2 separate regions of the Homo sapiens genome follow, and region 1 is linked to region 2. The links come from fine-mapping of genetic effects on gene expression. A gene starts in region 2. The other region holds a variant in brackets. All regions are shown on one strand. Distances are between the middles of the regions.

The links. PIP is the estimated chance that this variant, and not a neighbour inherited with it, causes the effect.
Region 1: its variant is fine-mapped to the expression of NECAB1 in iPS cells (PhLiPS, PIP 0.95).

What each region holds. Positions count from the first base shown.
Region 1 is chr8:90,716,242-90,724,586 of GRCh38, reverse strand. All of the region lies in intron 1 of LOC105375633 (a long non-coding RNA gene), which reads left to right. Among named protein-coding and RNA genes, the nearest start is that of NECAB1, 71 kb to the left of the region's middle. The variant G/A (reference allele first, on the strand shown) is at 3,829.
Region 2 is chr8:90,787,409-90,795,753 of GRCh38, reverse strand. It overlaps NECAB1 (N-terminal EF-hand calcium binding protein 1), which reads right to left and starts at 3,979. Exons shown (of 13, transcript NM_022351.5): 1 at 3,769-3,979. The coding sequence starts at 3,867. It overlaps LOC105375633 (a long non-coding RNA gene), which reads left to right and starts at 3,586. Exons shown (of 4, transcript XR_928389.4): 1 at 3,586-4,316.

The DNA.
Region 1 (8,345 bases), 71 kb after region 2:
GATACAAAGCTAATTCTGTTTTGCACTTAAAAACACCAAAACTCAAATCCTGAAATCTTTCACTAACATTTCTTCTGTTCTTTTTTGATGTTGATATGTACTACTGAGTTTCCTTCTATGCCTACAAAACTATACCACCCAAAGAAAAAAATGTTAAAGACACCACATTACCATATCTACAGTGTTAATTCCTGAGAGTTAAACATTTCTAATTGCAAAGACAATATGTCTGCTTCATAATTCAATGAATTATTTTTAAATATTTCCTCTACCTGAATAATATTATTATACTAGAATGCCAATTATTTTTTTCCTCTTGTATTTGCTATGATAACAACCAGAAGGACTCTTCCTTTGATTGAGGGGCTCAGAAACATCTTACAGAACAGTGATCCCAGTTTCCTTCTCTGGATTTTAACTCCTTTCTAATCATCATATTCTTTGATTTCAATTCTGATTGAAGGGAGCTCTCATGTATCTCAAAGGTGAGTGAGCAGCTTTAGTGGACCATCTGTAACTACTGACTTAGCCTTATTTTATACAGACAAGCCTAGTAGCTGGGCAGATGTTAATGCCAAATTGGCTGAACAACCCACCAGACTACTCAGTGGACTTGAGTACTTTTGCAGCCCTGTAAGAGAACCCAATGCCAGTATTAAGGATATACAACACATGGGGGCAGAGTCTGTTTAGGCAGAAAATTGGAAGAACTCCATAGAGAAAAAAAGAGAAAGGAGAAATGAGGCCCTAGTTATTTGAGTTTTTGTCCCTTAAAGTAAGGCTGAGGTCTCTATTTTAGTTTTTATTCATGTCATAGTTTATTTTCTATCAAAAGACATCAAAGAATAAAGCAGTATTTATCTGAATAGGGTATGATTTTTTTAAACTACTGAAATGACAATGATGATAGTTATGCCAATTTTCTGAGCCTTTTAGGTTAATAATATATTTTTCTTGATGAAAACTCTTATAATAGAATTTTTAAAATAAAAACTTTTATTTTTATAAACTATCATAAAGAATGACTAATATTTTAACAATTCATGTGATTAGTGGGTAGGAACAGTAAGGTATAACTAAACACAGATGCTCAGTAAAGTTAAATATGTCTATAGTGCTTTTTAAAATCAAAATTGGAAAGGAGATATGTTAGCATATTGAAACCATTAAAGTAGGGTGAGTCACTAAAGATGATTAAGACAAATATCTTTTTCCTACCTCTTACTTACTTTTTGTAGCTTCTAAACTGTGATCTAGTAAGCCATTGCTTTAGACTAATACACCTTCTGTCCCCGATGGAAGGGAGCATAACATAGAGATTAATTAATAATGTCAATTCAGGAGAAAGTGCTCCCAAGTTCTAATACCAGCATCATCATTTACTAACGCTGTGACCTTGGGAAAGATCCTCATCCATCCTCTCAGGGGCTGAGTTTCTTTATATGTGAAGAGGAATGATTAATTGTAACTACCTAATGGATTTGTTAGGAGGATTGAGTATAATAACAACTAAAAGAACTTAAAACAGTGCCTAGTACATTGTAAGCGCTTAATAAATATTGGCTTTAATTGTTATTACAACTGGACCCAAAGAATTATTTAATTTTCTTGATGTACTTAATAACAAAGATATGCCCAATTTCCCAACTCCTGAAGGTCAAAACAGGGGAGACTGAGCTGTAATAAAGTTAATCTGCTATTTCTCAACTACCCTGATAGGACAACAGTTAGCCCTATGGTCAGCTACTGTGCCTGAAGAAATTCTAGTGTCAGAGTTTCTATGGCAAAGATCCCTTCTACAGGAATGGGGATGATTTTACCCCTTTCACAAATGTTGCTTCAATGTACCCCACAAAATTTCGGTTATATTGATTCAGTAATAGTATGAATCATGCTTGGTAGTAAGCAAGAAAAGTTATGATTTTGTAGATTATCCAGTTTTACTTATTGTTACAATGGGGTTCATGTTCTTTTGTGACTTTCTAGATCCTAAAGAGAAGCAGAACTAACTTGGGCATTATTTTGTCAAATAACCTTTATGCTCTAGCATTTCCCTCTTTTAATTCTAGAACTATTTTACGTATAATAGAACTTTAGATATTTTCCCACATGTCTCTGAGGCAATGCTGATATTTTCTCAATCTTTCTCTCTTTATTCTTCTGATTGGATAATTTCTAGTAGTTGATGGACTCTTTCTCCTGTACCCTGCTGTTAAGCCCAGCCAGTAATTTTTAATGTAATAGAATGCATTTTTAGTCCTAGAATTTCCTCATTGAGCACTTACTGGGTCCCAGAGGTGACTTTATGTTTTGTTTACACCTTAATTTGAGACGAATTTTGGAAAGTCATAACTCTTCAGAACCATAGTACACCCTTTTCACATTGATTCTCCTTGTTTCTACTTTAAAATAGTCCACTGAAATCAAACACCCTTTAGTAGAGCAGCTGTTTGTAGGGAAGTGGCAGAGGAAAACATTTATCTCAGACCTCTAGATAAGGTATAAATTCTCCTCTGATTTAACTCTCTATTGGTTGGACATGTCTTTAGTATCTTTCTTGTTCATATTCACAACTAGTTTACTCATATTCATGTGATTGTCCAGTCCATTTTAGCAACTTATTTTCTATACCACATCTAATGTGTCTTGTCGTTTGGTTAAAAATAAATCAGTCCATTCTAGTTTGTATATTCATCTAAGTAGCTTCAGGATAAGGGCTCCTAGCAGAAATTTTTATCAGATACCAGTACCAGGAACAGCTGTGCATCTCCTGAACAATTGGTTTGTTTGTGAATCTTCAAACAATCTTTTGTAGTACTGTGAATCTTGAAACTGATTGTTTTTCCCTCTTTGCTTTGTCACTAAAAGAAATTCAGAGTCCAATGTGTAGCTCACCTCTAAAAATACTACATAAACTTATGATAAAGATTTTGGTATACTAACCTTAGCTTGTTTTATTTTCTACCACTATTTTCTTTTGTACCAGATAGTCTCATCAATTTATCCTTTCTATACTTATGTGATTTGTAAGAAACATTAACTTTCAAAGTGTATGTAATTAATAAATAAATTTAATTACTATTCACAAATTGAAATGCTCCAAATTGTGATATTCAATCCTTTATATCCTAATCCTGGTGAGAAAAGTGTTGTGAACAACATAATCAATTTCCCACATCTTTGAATTATACACAATGTGCGTTTATTTTAAGCCTTGGTCAGTGAACTGGTTTCTGAATATTCTTATTTTGCTCCCACTCTAAGAAATATACCTTCTACTTGGAATTAATAAAATTTATTGAGATAAAGTTATCATTTCTTTGTAAGTAGCCTTGGAATCTTTAGTTTCTATGTGCCTATCATTGTAATTAAGGTTGCTATATTCCACTGTGTTACGACCATCATTGTTGGAGAGTATCTATAAACTTCCTAAAGTCAGATAATTTTTGCTTGAAATTAAAAGTCTTGACCTTTGTGGTAGTTACATTGAATATTCACTTTACAAAAATTAGTTGTGTCTAGATTTTGTATGAGTTTTTCTAAATGTAACACAATTCACAATAAAAAAAGTTTTTCATAACTAATATTACTAAAAGCCCAGCCAGATATAAAATTAATTATAAATATAATCCTGGGGAGATACATAAACAAATTTAGGAATTATGAAAAAATGTATTCAGCTTGGTCAACTGGTTGATCTGAACCAATTCTACTGCCAAGAACAACTAGAAAAGTTTGATAAACAATGTTTTTAAAAATATGAGAATATTGGTGAGCTACAAAGGAAGAAATGAATACCAAACAAAAGCACAGAGAAGAAAACCCAGA[G/A]AGGCAAGCCTGATATTTGGACTACTTTTCTGCAGAGACAGTAGCTAATTCTACAAGAGAAGTTTCAGAGGCTGGGAAGCTAAACTGAGCTTTCAACAGCACTGTGAGCTTAGGAGGGTGCAAACTAGAATGTAGAGGCTTCCAAGGAGAGGGAGGGCCCTACAAATCTCCAAATTTTAGGACGAGACCTCCACCTAAGGACTGAGGGTAAACTGATGTAGTCCAGCCCTCACAAGGACTGACATTCAGTTTTGAATCACCTCTGTTCCTGAGTGGATTAAGGTAAGCTGGTATTGCTTTTGTTCCAACAATCTGCCAGAAACAAATGCAAATATTATTTGAGATGAAGTTTACTTTAGACTTCAAATTACCTCTATAATTTTTCAAATACCAACAACTGGCATGAAATTTAAAAGATCAGGCACACAGGGAGACAAAACTACGGGATGGAAACCAAGAAAAACAACAGACAATATAACAGATGCTCAGATCATCCAGATAGTGACATTTCAGACACAAACACAGATTGTTTAAATCACAAGTAATAACAATATATCGTGTGGTTTAAATTATCTGTAAAAGTCAAATGGATGACAATAATAGCACAAAGTACAAGTGTATAAATCATAGTATAGTTTGGAAGATTCTTACCTTATAAGGAAGTGCTGTAATATTAATTTAAAATAGACTGTGATAAGTTAAGGATACATATTAAAATAACTAAAGAAATCACTAAAAATAAAAGAGTTACAGATAAAAATTTAAAAGAGGAGGTAAAATGAAATATAAAAAAATTGACTAGTCAAAAAGAAGGTAGAAGGAAATAGTGGAGTCTCAAGAAAAGATAGAACAAATAGGAAACAAGAAGCAAAATGATTGTTTTAAACCCAACCATACTGATAATCACATAAAAGGCAATGAACTAGATACTCCAATTAAAAAACAGAGAGTATTAGAGTGGAAAAAAAGCAATGCCCAACTGTATGCTATTTAGAAAGAAATGCATTAAATGTAAATACATAAATATATTAAAAGAAAAAATATGAAAATAGTAAGAATGAGAAAGAAGTATTTATATTAATAAGGCAATGTAGATGTCAAGAAAAGAGTACCACCAGAGACATCACCATTACATAATGACAAAAAGTTTATTCATTAAAAGACATATCAATTCTGTTTCACGAATGAGCAAATAACAGTCTGTGAACCAAATCTGGCCTGCTACCTGTTTCTTTCATTTTTTATATTTTACTTTAAGTTCTGGGATACATGTGCAGAACGTGCAGGTTTCTTACATAGGTATACATGTGCCATGGTGGTTTGCTGCACTCATCAACCTGTCATCTAGGTTTTAAGTCCCACATGCATTAGGTGTTTGTCTTAATGCTCTCCCTCCCCTTTCCCCCCACACCCTGACAGGCCCTGGTGTGTGATGTTCCCCTTCCTGTGTCCATGTGTTCTCATTGTTCAACTCTCACTTATGAGGAGAACATGCGGTGTTTGGTTTTGTGTTCCTGTGTTAGTTTGCTGAGAATGATGGTTTCTAGTTTCATCCATGTCCCTGCAAAGGATATGAACGCATTCTTTTTTATGGCTGTATAGTATTCCATGGTGTATACGTGCCACATTTTCTTTATCCAGTCTATCATTGATGGGCATTTGGGTGGGTTCCAAGTCTTTGCTATTGTAAATAGTGCTGCAATAAACATATGTATGCATGTGTCTTTATAGTAGAATGATTTATAATCCCTGGGTATATACCCAGTAATGGGACTCCTGGATCGAATGGTATTTCTAGTTCTGGATCCTTGAGGAATCACCACACTGTCTTCCACAATGGCTGAAGTAATTTACACTCCCACCAACAGTGTAAAAGTGTTCCTAGTTCTCCACATCCTCTCCAGCATCTGTTGTTTCCAGACTTTTCAATTGATTGCCATTCTAACTGGCATGAGATGGTATCTCACTGTGGTTTAATTTGCATTTTTCTAATGACCAGTTATGATGAGCTTTTTTTCATATGTTTGTTGGCCACATAAATGTCTTCTTTTGAGAAGTGTCTGTTCATATCCTTTGCCCACTTTTTTGATGGGGTTGTGTATTTTTTTCTTGTAAATTTGTTTAAGTTCCTTGTAGATTCTGGATATTAGGCCTTTGTCAGAAGGGTAGATTGCAAAAATTTTCTCCCATTCTGTAGTTTGCCTGTTCACTCTGATGCTAGTGTCTTTTGCCGTGCAGAAGCGCTTTAGTTTAATTAGATCCCATTTGTCAATTTTGGCTTTTGTTGCCATTGCTTTTGGTGAATTAGTCATGAAGTCTTTGCCCATGCCTATGTCCTAAACGGTATTGCCTAAGTTTTCTTCTAGGGTTTTTATGGTTCTAGGTTTTACATTTCTGTCTTTAATCCATCTTGAGTTAATTGTTGTACCTGTTTCTGTTTTAAATGAAGTTTTATGAATGCAGCCATCCTTATTTGATTACATATTGTTTTTGTCTACTTTAGAGCTACAAAGACAGATGTGGGTTGTGACAGAGACAGTATGACACCCAAAACCTAAATTGTTTACTATTTGGCCACTTATTTTTTTAAATGCAAAATTTATTATGTGCATACAGATTAATAATAGAGCTTCTAAATACAGAATAAAAAACTGAAAAAACTAAAGAAAAAAACAAGAAGTTCCAAATGTTTAGCAATCAAGTGGCACATTTATAAATAATCCCTGAATCATAAAATATTAGCAAATCAAATCAAGAAATATGTAAAAAGTTTAACACATCAAGACTAAGGATTTTTTATCCCAGGATTGGTCTCATGTTGTAAAGTTAAACAATGTAATTCACCACATTAACAGAACAAAACAAAAATTATATGGTCATTTTACTAGATCCAAAAAAATCGCTGGACATAATTCAATACCTATTTATGATTGTTTAAAATCTCAGAAAACTAAAATGAAAAGAAAGCTTATCAATCTGACCAAGGGCATCTACAAAAATTTGCAGCTAACAGTATATTTAATGGTAAAAGACTGAACATTTTACCCCGAATTCTTACCACTTATATTCAACATTGTACTAACCTGTACAACAAGAACTGCCAAGACCAGCTCAGTCAGGGAGACCCTAACCCAGTGGCGCTAGAGGAATTAAAGACACACACACAGAAATATAGAGGTGTGAAAGGGGAAATCTGGGGTCTCACAGCCTTCAGAGCTGGGAACCTTGAACAGAGATTTACCCACATATTTATTAACAGCAAGCCAGTCATTAGCCATGTTTCTATAGATATTGAATTAACTAAAAGTATCCCTTATGGGAAACAAAGGGATGGGCTGAATTAAAGGAATAGATTGGGCTAGTTAACTGCAGCAGGAGCACGTCCTTAAGGCACAGATCGCTTATGCTATTGTTTGTGGTTTAAGAATGCCTTCAAGTGGTTTTCCACCTTGAGTGGGCCAGCTGTTCCTTGCCCTCATTCTGGTAAACCCACAACCTTCCAGTGTGGGCATTATGGCCATCATGAACATGTCACAGTGCTGCAGAGATTTTTTTTATGGCTAGTTTTGGGGCCAGTTTATGGCCAGATTTTGGGGGGCCTGTTCCCAACAAAGAACTAACCATGAAATAAGGCAAGAAAAAATATATATATATAAATTGAAAAGAAAGAAATAAAACTCTCTTTATTTTAAGATAAAATGATACTCAATTTAGAAGGTCCAAAGGCATCTACAAAACAACAATGGGAGTTAATAAATGAATTTAGTAAATCCACAGGATACAGAATCAATGCTATCCCTATCAAATTACCAATGTCATTTTTCACAGAATTAGAAAAAATATTCTAAAATTCATATGGAATCAAAAAAGAGCACAAATAGCCAAAGCAATCCTAATCAAAATGAACAAAACCACAGGCATCACATTATCTGACTTCAAGTATATTTCAAGGCTACAGTAACCAAAACAGCATGGTACTGGGACAAAAATAGACACATGGACTAATGGAAAAGATTAGAGAATCTAGAAATAAAGCTGCACACCTACACCTAACTGATCTTTGACAAAATCAACAAAAATAAGCAATGGGGAAAAAACTCCCTATTCAATAAATGATGCTGGGGGAATTGGCTAATCATATGCAAAAGAATGAAACTGTACACTTATCCCTCACTATATATCAAAATTAACTCAAGAAAGATTAAAGACTAAAATATAAAACCTCACACTATAAAAATCCTAGAAGAAAACCTAGGAAACACTATTCTGGACATCGGCCTGGCAAAGAATTTATGACTAAGTCTTTAAAAGCAATTGCAACAAAAACAAAACTTGACATGTGGAACCTAATTAAACTAAAGAGCTTCTGCACAGCAAAAGAATAAACAGATAACATACAGAATGAGAGGAAATATTTGCGAACTATGCGTCTAACAAAGGGCTCATATCCAGAATGTACAAGGAACTTAAGTCAAGAATAAAACAAATAACCCCCAAAGAAGACATACAAGTGTCCA
Region 2 (8,345 bases):
TCAAATGAGCAAGTGTGTGTGTGTGTGTGTGTGTGTGTGTGTGTGAGAGAGATGAGGTGAGATGGGAGGTGTGTGGCTATAACAGAGTTCAGTCACAGAACCATTGCATCTGGAAGACTCATTCGGCTTCGACATTCCTCTGTGCATCTCACACATCATACAAATGAGCATATATGGGGCTTCAGAATTAAGTGTCCTTGTGAAAAGAAACTATTTCTTGTTTTCACCAAGTTCCTGACCATCTATGCTCTGTATCTTGCATTCAGAGTGTACATGAGTGTGCATGCTTAGACGAAGGAAGGAAGGGAAGACAAGCAGTAAAGTCATTCATCCCCCTCACAACTTTCCAGCCTCTTTCCCTCTTTAGCAGTGAAGTGGGGAACAGTCACTTCCCTTCCAGTTAAAAATCAAAGGAAAACTGATGGGAAAGGAAAGTGGCATTGGGTGGATGAAGTTGCTACTAATTTCGTTTGGGAATTTCTCTTGCTTTTGGGGATGAGTTGAAGGTTTGTTTTTCTCCCTTTTCACAGTAGCGGAGTTGATTAATGTAATGACTCAAAAGAGGAGACACATGCTACATAGACTAGTATTCCAAACTAGAGTTCCTCTTCTGTTAACTGGATTGCAGCAACTGGGGAAATGATAGTCCATTGGTGTAAAAGGAAAAGCAATAGTAATCCCTGTGGTCCTATGTGTTGCCAGGACCCAGTTGAGTCCCTCTCCTGTGGCTGGCAGGCATGCCATATGCAAATGCTTGCTCCAGCCTCAATGCACTGGCATACCTTGGCACCAGTGCTAGGTTTTCTAAGCCTCCCATCAGTATTCAAGAGTATTTATGATGAACCGATACTTAATTCTGTCATATTCTAGCAAGACAATTCTATAAATTAGATTCATGAAGAAATAGTCCCTGCATCAGTTTGTGGATTTAGCTACTGTTACTGTTATTTAATACACTCAGTGTGCAGCACTGAAATAACCATAATACTTCAAATTTATGCAATACTTTTTGCTTTGTTTCCATTTTCCCTTATTTCATACTCACAACAGCCTAAGGAAGTATCATAGTGATTACTATTGCTGATTTGGAGAGGATACTGAAGGAAAAGCCAACAGTTGTGGCAAATCTATCTCTGATTTTCTTGTTAAAATCTGTCTCTAGTTTCCAACCAGCTGGTCATGTATCATGTCATTAATAGTGTTCTCAGTAGCAGTTTACATCATTTCTTAAATGATTGATTATTCCAGTGACATTGCAATAAAAAGCACTGCAAATCAAAGTTTTCCTCAAATTTGGAAATTGTCTGTTTGATACAGAAGACACACAGAAAATTACCTGTTCCAGTTTGGAACAGGTAATATCTATCACCTATGTATTATAATATGAAGATAATTTTAAAAGTAATCTTTCTTGCTAGTGCCATAGAATATATTAAATCAAATAAATAAAGTGATGCATGTATATTTTATATTTTATTTTGCTAAAAGTGGTATGATCCAGAAATGAATAATTCACAAATCCCTAAGTAACAAATCATTTTTCATATCACATATTTCACCAGTGTTAGATTTTTCACAAAATAACTCAAAGAAAAGTGTAAACAAAATCTTTTCCATTTGACACAAAATCCAATGGCAGGTTTTTTTTGTAGACTCTAGCATTTTACCGACAAACAAGCATGTCAACACCTCTCATAGGGAATCAGTTTCCTATTTTTATTTTTAAATCTCTGAAATATAAAAGGCAAGACCACCCTATTCACAGACTACAAGTTCCTTTAGTACAGGGACCTGATGCTATTTGTTTACAGACTTGGAAACAATCATGCATACATAATAAAAAATGAAATTTTAATTTTCTCTTCGAAAACATTGCAGTTGAACACTTAAGCAATGGCTGGTGTATGAGTCAGGAGGATGACTTTCCATTTGTGTAGTTTTAATCCATTCATCTCCACACTATCACCGGGGTTTGTTAAGTGCTTTTTAAAAAGCACAGGGAAGCACTTGATCTCAATGGGGGACAGAGTGAAGATCAGGTCAGAATGAATGGAGGCCCCACTTGTCCCCTTTGAATCAACTCCATGGCCCCTTAATTGTCAGCCTCATAACTGACATGATTTCCAGGGGCCCTGACTTTTCAGGCATGTTGTGGTGCCCTTCTCTTTTCTCAGCTTACCTCCTCAAGTGCTTTATGGCCCTGAACAGCAAAACTTGAATAAGATCAGCCCGTTAAGCCATGAGCACCAATAATACCATCTGACTGACCCAAGCCAGGCAGAGATAAATGCTCATGAAGGATAAGGTACTTAACCACCTGATTGGGTGGCTGAATAGGAATGACCACACCTGAGATTTGGTGGGAAGGAGATGACCAGCCCAGAATGCCTGGATCACCAATTGGAGCCACCAGGTGATAAAGGGTGAAGGCTGCCAGTACACACAGTTGAACCTCACTTCTATCATTTGCCTTACAACAGTTTGAATTATTGATAGGAGTTTCTTTCCCTAGAATTAAAAAGAATTCTAGCCAATCCATTCAAAATAAACTTGGGAGAGCGCCTCACATCCTCCTATCCTCTTTATCTCTGCCTCACCATTATGATACTAATTGATTTCCTCATATTTTCATCTCTCCACAAACAAATGTATCTGGCTTCTGGCCCATCTCCCACTCATTTTGACTTTAATAAGAAAAGATAACTCAGAGAAGGGTAAAGGACAGAGCACGTAGCACTCCTCCATGTCCTTTGACATTTTCTATCATGCCTAAACAAGAAGCAGACAGAATTGTCCCCACTGAGATAGACACGACCTCCGGCAACAGCATGAATGTGACAACTGAGGGGCTGGGAGAGCCTGGAGCCCGGCAAGCAGCTGAGAGAAACCCCAAAGCAGAGAGAAGAGATAGGCAACAGACGGAAAAATAGAGAAAACAGAAACAGCAGGCAGGAGAGGAAAACAAAATTGAGAAATAAATAAGAAATAAAAGTGCTGTAAAGATAGAAACCACACCATACGGGAAAAAGAAACAGCACAGAAGGAAAAGAAAGGATGTAATCAGATCAGAGTAATGAAGGCAGGCAGTCGATACCGAAGTGAGAAATTGGACCAAAGGGAAAATAGTCAAAAGCTAGAATTCATGGAGGTGACAGTAGTAATTAGAACTTGGAGAGAAGGAGAATATCAGGGAAGAAAAAGGGAAAATAGAAGAGGTGGCAGTGACAAAAAGAATCATTATGAAAATGATATTTCCCACCGCTGTAAAAAGAAAAACAAATATGCTCAAAGTAATTGTTTTCCGAGGGGGTCTGGGGGAGGATAACGAGGGCATCTCAATCGCTGCTGCTTCCCTGGCTGGGTTGCTTGAGAGCATCCACGAGTGTGAAGGCTGCGAATAGGGCGCGTTAGAGAGATGAGTTGGGACACTGTCCCCACCTCACCCCCCACACCTTGTGCCTCTTTAAAATGTCCTATGCACTCAAATGTTGTCTGTTGTATTTGCAATAGTGTCTCTACGAAACCCAGCCTGTTGGAAAATCTAACTTTTGCAGTTTTCTTAAGGGTGTTAAGCCACAAGCTGCAGGTCTGGGACAGCCCTAGCTGCAAGTTAAGGGACAGTCGTTCCTCCTGCATTTGCATCGGTAGTTCTCGCCTGTGTTCTGGGGACAAAGCATTGGCTGGTCAGCACCTGAGCCGAACCCCTTCCTTTCGGGGAAAAGAAAGGTGCTGGGAAGCAACCGCCCAGCTCCCACCATCTGTACTTACGTCGAGGAAGATCGACATGCCCTTGGACAGGTGCAGAGCAGAGCTGAGCTCCTCCGAGGAGTTGTTGGAGGACGGCGATGTCTCCTGGGAATCTTCCATCCTCGGGAGCCCTGACGGCCTCAGGCGGAGCGGGGCTAGGCGGACGCACCGGCTCTGGCAAGGGCGCGGCCGCAGCTGCTGCTTCGCCGCCGCCGGGCTCTGGATCCGGGAGGGTGTTCGCTCCCGCGCGCGCCTCCCTCCGCGCTCTCCGCGCTCTCCGCGCTCGGTGTCCCCCCCTCCCTCCTCCGGCCTCTGCGCTCCCACGCGCTCCAACTCTCGCCTCCTCCTTCCCGTAGTTGACGGCGTCTGGATCCATGTCATCCCCGCACGTAGCAACGCGCGGAGGGGAGCGGGCTCTGCCCCCGGCACGGCCATCGGCCACGGCTGGAGATAGCCTGGGGACCCCTACCAGCCCCACGACGGCCCCAAGTGCAGGGATGGAGGAGGGCGTCCGGACAGAGAGAAGGGACGAATGGCAGGGCGTTTGTCCTGAGCAGCCAAAGCGCAAGGTAAGGACGCCCCCAGCCTCACCTGAGTGGATGCCATAAATAGGGAGGAACTCAGAGAGGTTCTACCTACTCTGCTTTTGGTCCCAGTGGCCTGTCTGCCCGACCTTCCCCAAAGGCGGGGGCAGGGTTCACGAATACCAGCAATCGAGGAGCAGCTGGTTTGGTGTAGGGATTAAGCCATTCGGTGTTATCTTGCGCTCGAAGGACTTAACCTGTAAGCCTCACTTTTCCTCATCAGTAAAATGGTTACACCGGTCTCACCCCAGAGGGTTCTGAGGCTTACCTATGGCAGTGCTGCTGACAAAGGCGGTGCTATGAACTCTGCCTAGAGTAGGCTTCGAAACGTTTGCTATGGGGCAAGGATTGTTAGGTAATGTTCAAATATGAAGTTTCCCAAAGTCACAAGACGAAGTCCTTATCTGTGTTTAAGCATTTAAACCAGGGTAATTATTCAATATTTGACGGCTTCTGCGAAGGCTGTAAAAATAGGAAACTGACCACACCTTTCATCAGGAGAGAGATCCAGTTTATTGGGCATCTAAAATGTGTATGTGTTGGTTACAAACTTGAGCTATCTGGGAGCGAGATAAGGCAAAAAAGAGGGAACCTTGTCTAAACAAGACTCTGCCTCTACCAGTGAGAACGGGTGAGGAGGATCCAGATCTCCATTTTGTGGCCTTTGGAGAAAAGTAAACATATTCTTCCTATAAGACAGGCCCACACACAACCAAAATGCTGATCAACATGTGAGTGTCTTAAAGGCATGTAAAACATGCTAGGGGTTTCTCAGGAGAGACAGGTTACACTCTGGCTGGGGGGACCAATAAAAGCTTGATGAAAGAAGCGGTATATGAAATGGACCTTAAAAATCAGTGGATACTCCATGCTTGATAGAAATAGAAGGAAAACACTTCCAGGCAGAAGGAACAGCGTAAGCAAAGCATGGCACCAGGAAAGCACGTGGAAGCTGGAAGTAGTCCACTGGGGATTCCTATAAACATACAGAATCCCAGATCCTACCTGGGCTTTCCAAATCCCAATACTAAAGTACTGTCTAGTCCAGAAATCCAAGTCCCCCTCACCCTAATGATTCATACACAGTTGCTATGTAGTAGGCTCAGGACTAGGGTGTGGCAAGTGGGGCCACTTGAGCACAGAATGTAAGGAGGCACTTGCTCTCAATCTCTATCCTGTGCTTGCATGATCCTGAGAATGATTTTCTTAAATTTTGCACCCTAGGTGTCTTGTTCACTTCACCCAAGTCCCACTGCTCCTTTGTAGATGGGTGCTTACAAAAAAAAAAAATGAATCCAGTTGTTCTCAACGCTGCCTGTACATTGGAATCACCTGGGGTGTGTGGTAACTTTAAAATGTGCCCACAAATTCATTGACATTCTTCCTATAGAGAAGTGGGTCCCCTCCCCTTAAATCTGAAAGATTGTGACTGCTACAATGAATGAAATGGAACAGAAGTGTTGCTATGTGCTTTCCGAGGGTAGGGGCATAAAAGCCTTTGCAATTCCACTTTTTACAGTGGATTTGCTCCTGGATTCTTGAACTTCCGTATAGGAAGTTTTTCTACCTTAAGCCACCATGCTTTGAGGAAGCCCAAGGTATATGGAAAGGCAAGTGTAGACACCTGGCTTACAGGTATAGCTAAGCAGAGCCTTTGCATTATCCCAGCCTCAGCAGCAGAAATGTCAATGAGGAAGCCTGCAAATGACTCCAGCTCCCAGCTCTTGCAGACATCCCTAGCCATGTGAGTTGTCCCAGCCAAAACCCCAGGCATCATGGAGTAAAGGCACACTACCAGTGCTGTGCTGTGTCAGAACAGTTGGACCACAGAATTGGGAACATAATAAAATGTATACCGTTTCATACAAATAAGTGTTGAGGTGGTTGGATTTGTAACAATAGATAACCAAAATAAGGAGCTAACCCTCCCTGCACAAACACACACACACACAAACCAAACTGATGCCTGTGCTTCATCCTCAAATTCACTTTCAATTAGTATGCGGTGGGCCCAGTGGATTAATGTTTGTTTGTTTGAAGATTTCCATGTGATTCTGATGTGCAGCAAGGATTAAGAATCACCAAACTTAACTGTGCTGTACATACAGTACAGGAAAAAAGTAGAATAAAATCTCAGAAAATAGGCAGAGGCTATAGGATGAAAATCTGTGAAGCCCGGGGATAGAACTCTGGACTTAATTAGGTAGAGAGTTAGAGACATTAAACTTAATCAGGGGTGAGATATTGATTGGAGCTGTGCTTTAGGAATATTCATCTGACATCTTTATGTGCATTTTCCTAATTAACTGCAAATTTCCTTACCTGAACAGTGAGAATAGACCCTTCTCTTTGACAACTGTTCATCAAAATAGATACAAAATCATTTAAAAAAAAAACATACTGGTCAACCCATCAGATAGACACAGGTCATTCAAATCACTGAAGGAGAAAAACCACGAGAAGGAGGGGGGCTGTCAACCATTAACATCAAGTTACTGAATTTATCAAAATAACATGTTGTTTATTCCTGCCATTGGATGAAGAATGGAATAGATTTTTCTGCAACAAGTGCAGTTTAAGTCTGACCCCTCTAACCCAAGTTGTGCGGGTCCCTCAGCCCTCAAATTCAACCACACAAGTGATAATATTTTTATGCCAATCCCATGGTAACAAGAATAGTTAATAAAGGAGACTTTCTCTGATTATAAATGAAGAACAGGAGAATAATCAGCAGTCATCATTCAAAACCAGGAAGCTGTTTGTAACACTTTAGTTACAAACACTTCAGTTACAGGAAGCTGTTTGTAACACTTTACTGACAATGAATGACATTTTCTGTACCTGTGGATTTGCTTATTTCCTCTAATGGTCTATCAAGGAGAAACATAAATTATTAAGCAATCAACCGATCATTATTTATTTTTATGATTCCTATGTGAACACAGGAATACATTCTGCTGTAACTGACTTCTCTTTTTAATGGAAATGTAATGTTCACAGAGGCTGTAGTAGAAAAAATGGCAATTAGATTCACATTCACAGACAAATTCAATAGGCTCTACGAAGTGGCAACCAAACATATTTTTATAGTTTTCTTTTTATCTAGATGGCATGCATTTTTGAAAGCAGTTTTCACACATTTTCGTGAAACACACATGCCTCACTGCTGTGCATAGTATCAGTCACAAACAGCAGACAACCGACTTGAGGGAGGAAATGCAACTTCTTTGTAGCAAGGGCCTAAAAAAAATAGAAATGTAATTCCAGATTCCAGCTCTCAGGCTTCCTATGATAAGACTTTGACGTGAAGATATTTCTAGCATTTCAGGAGATGATAGCTGTGTGGGAATATATTGTATTTCAATCCATCTCTGCCTTGTAGAAGAACTATTATCTAAACCATTTCAGACAGCTGGGAATCTATCTTATTTATATCTTAAATTCTAGGGAAGGTTATCCTTCCCTTTTGAGTGATGACTCAGAATCCTTTCAGTCAGGTTAGTGGACATTTTTGTTGCCTTGGCAGCTTAGGATCCAAATCCCCTTCCGCTTTAAGTGCCTATCCCCATGGTGTGTTTCCTGACTGGGGGCAGAACTCGCCCCTTCTGAAGGAAAGAAAGGAGATCCTCTCCCTCTTCTCTGGTAGCTGGAGCACAGGCTGAGAGCTAGGCTCAGCTGATAGGACACTTCACTTGTGTGTTTAAACCTGAATCAAGGGATGTGCGGGGAAGTTTATTAATGGCAGTAGACACTCACAGTGTAGTGTTGAGTGTGGCCACAGTGCCAGGGGAGCCCTGAGGATGAATTAATCAAATGGATAATGGCACTCTGTGATTTCAGCAGCCCTGTCCTCCAATCTTGATCTCGAGGCTTTCTGCCGACTTCCTGAGAGACCTAGTATCCTTCCAAAACTTTCTTTTCTGTTTTACCTTAGTCAAAGTTAGTTTTTTATGTTTGGATTCTGACAGATAAATTCAATTTAAATTTCTAGTGTTAAAGAAGGCCATAGTTAAG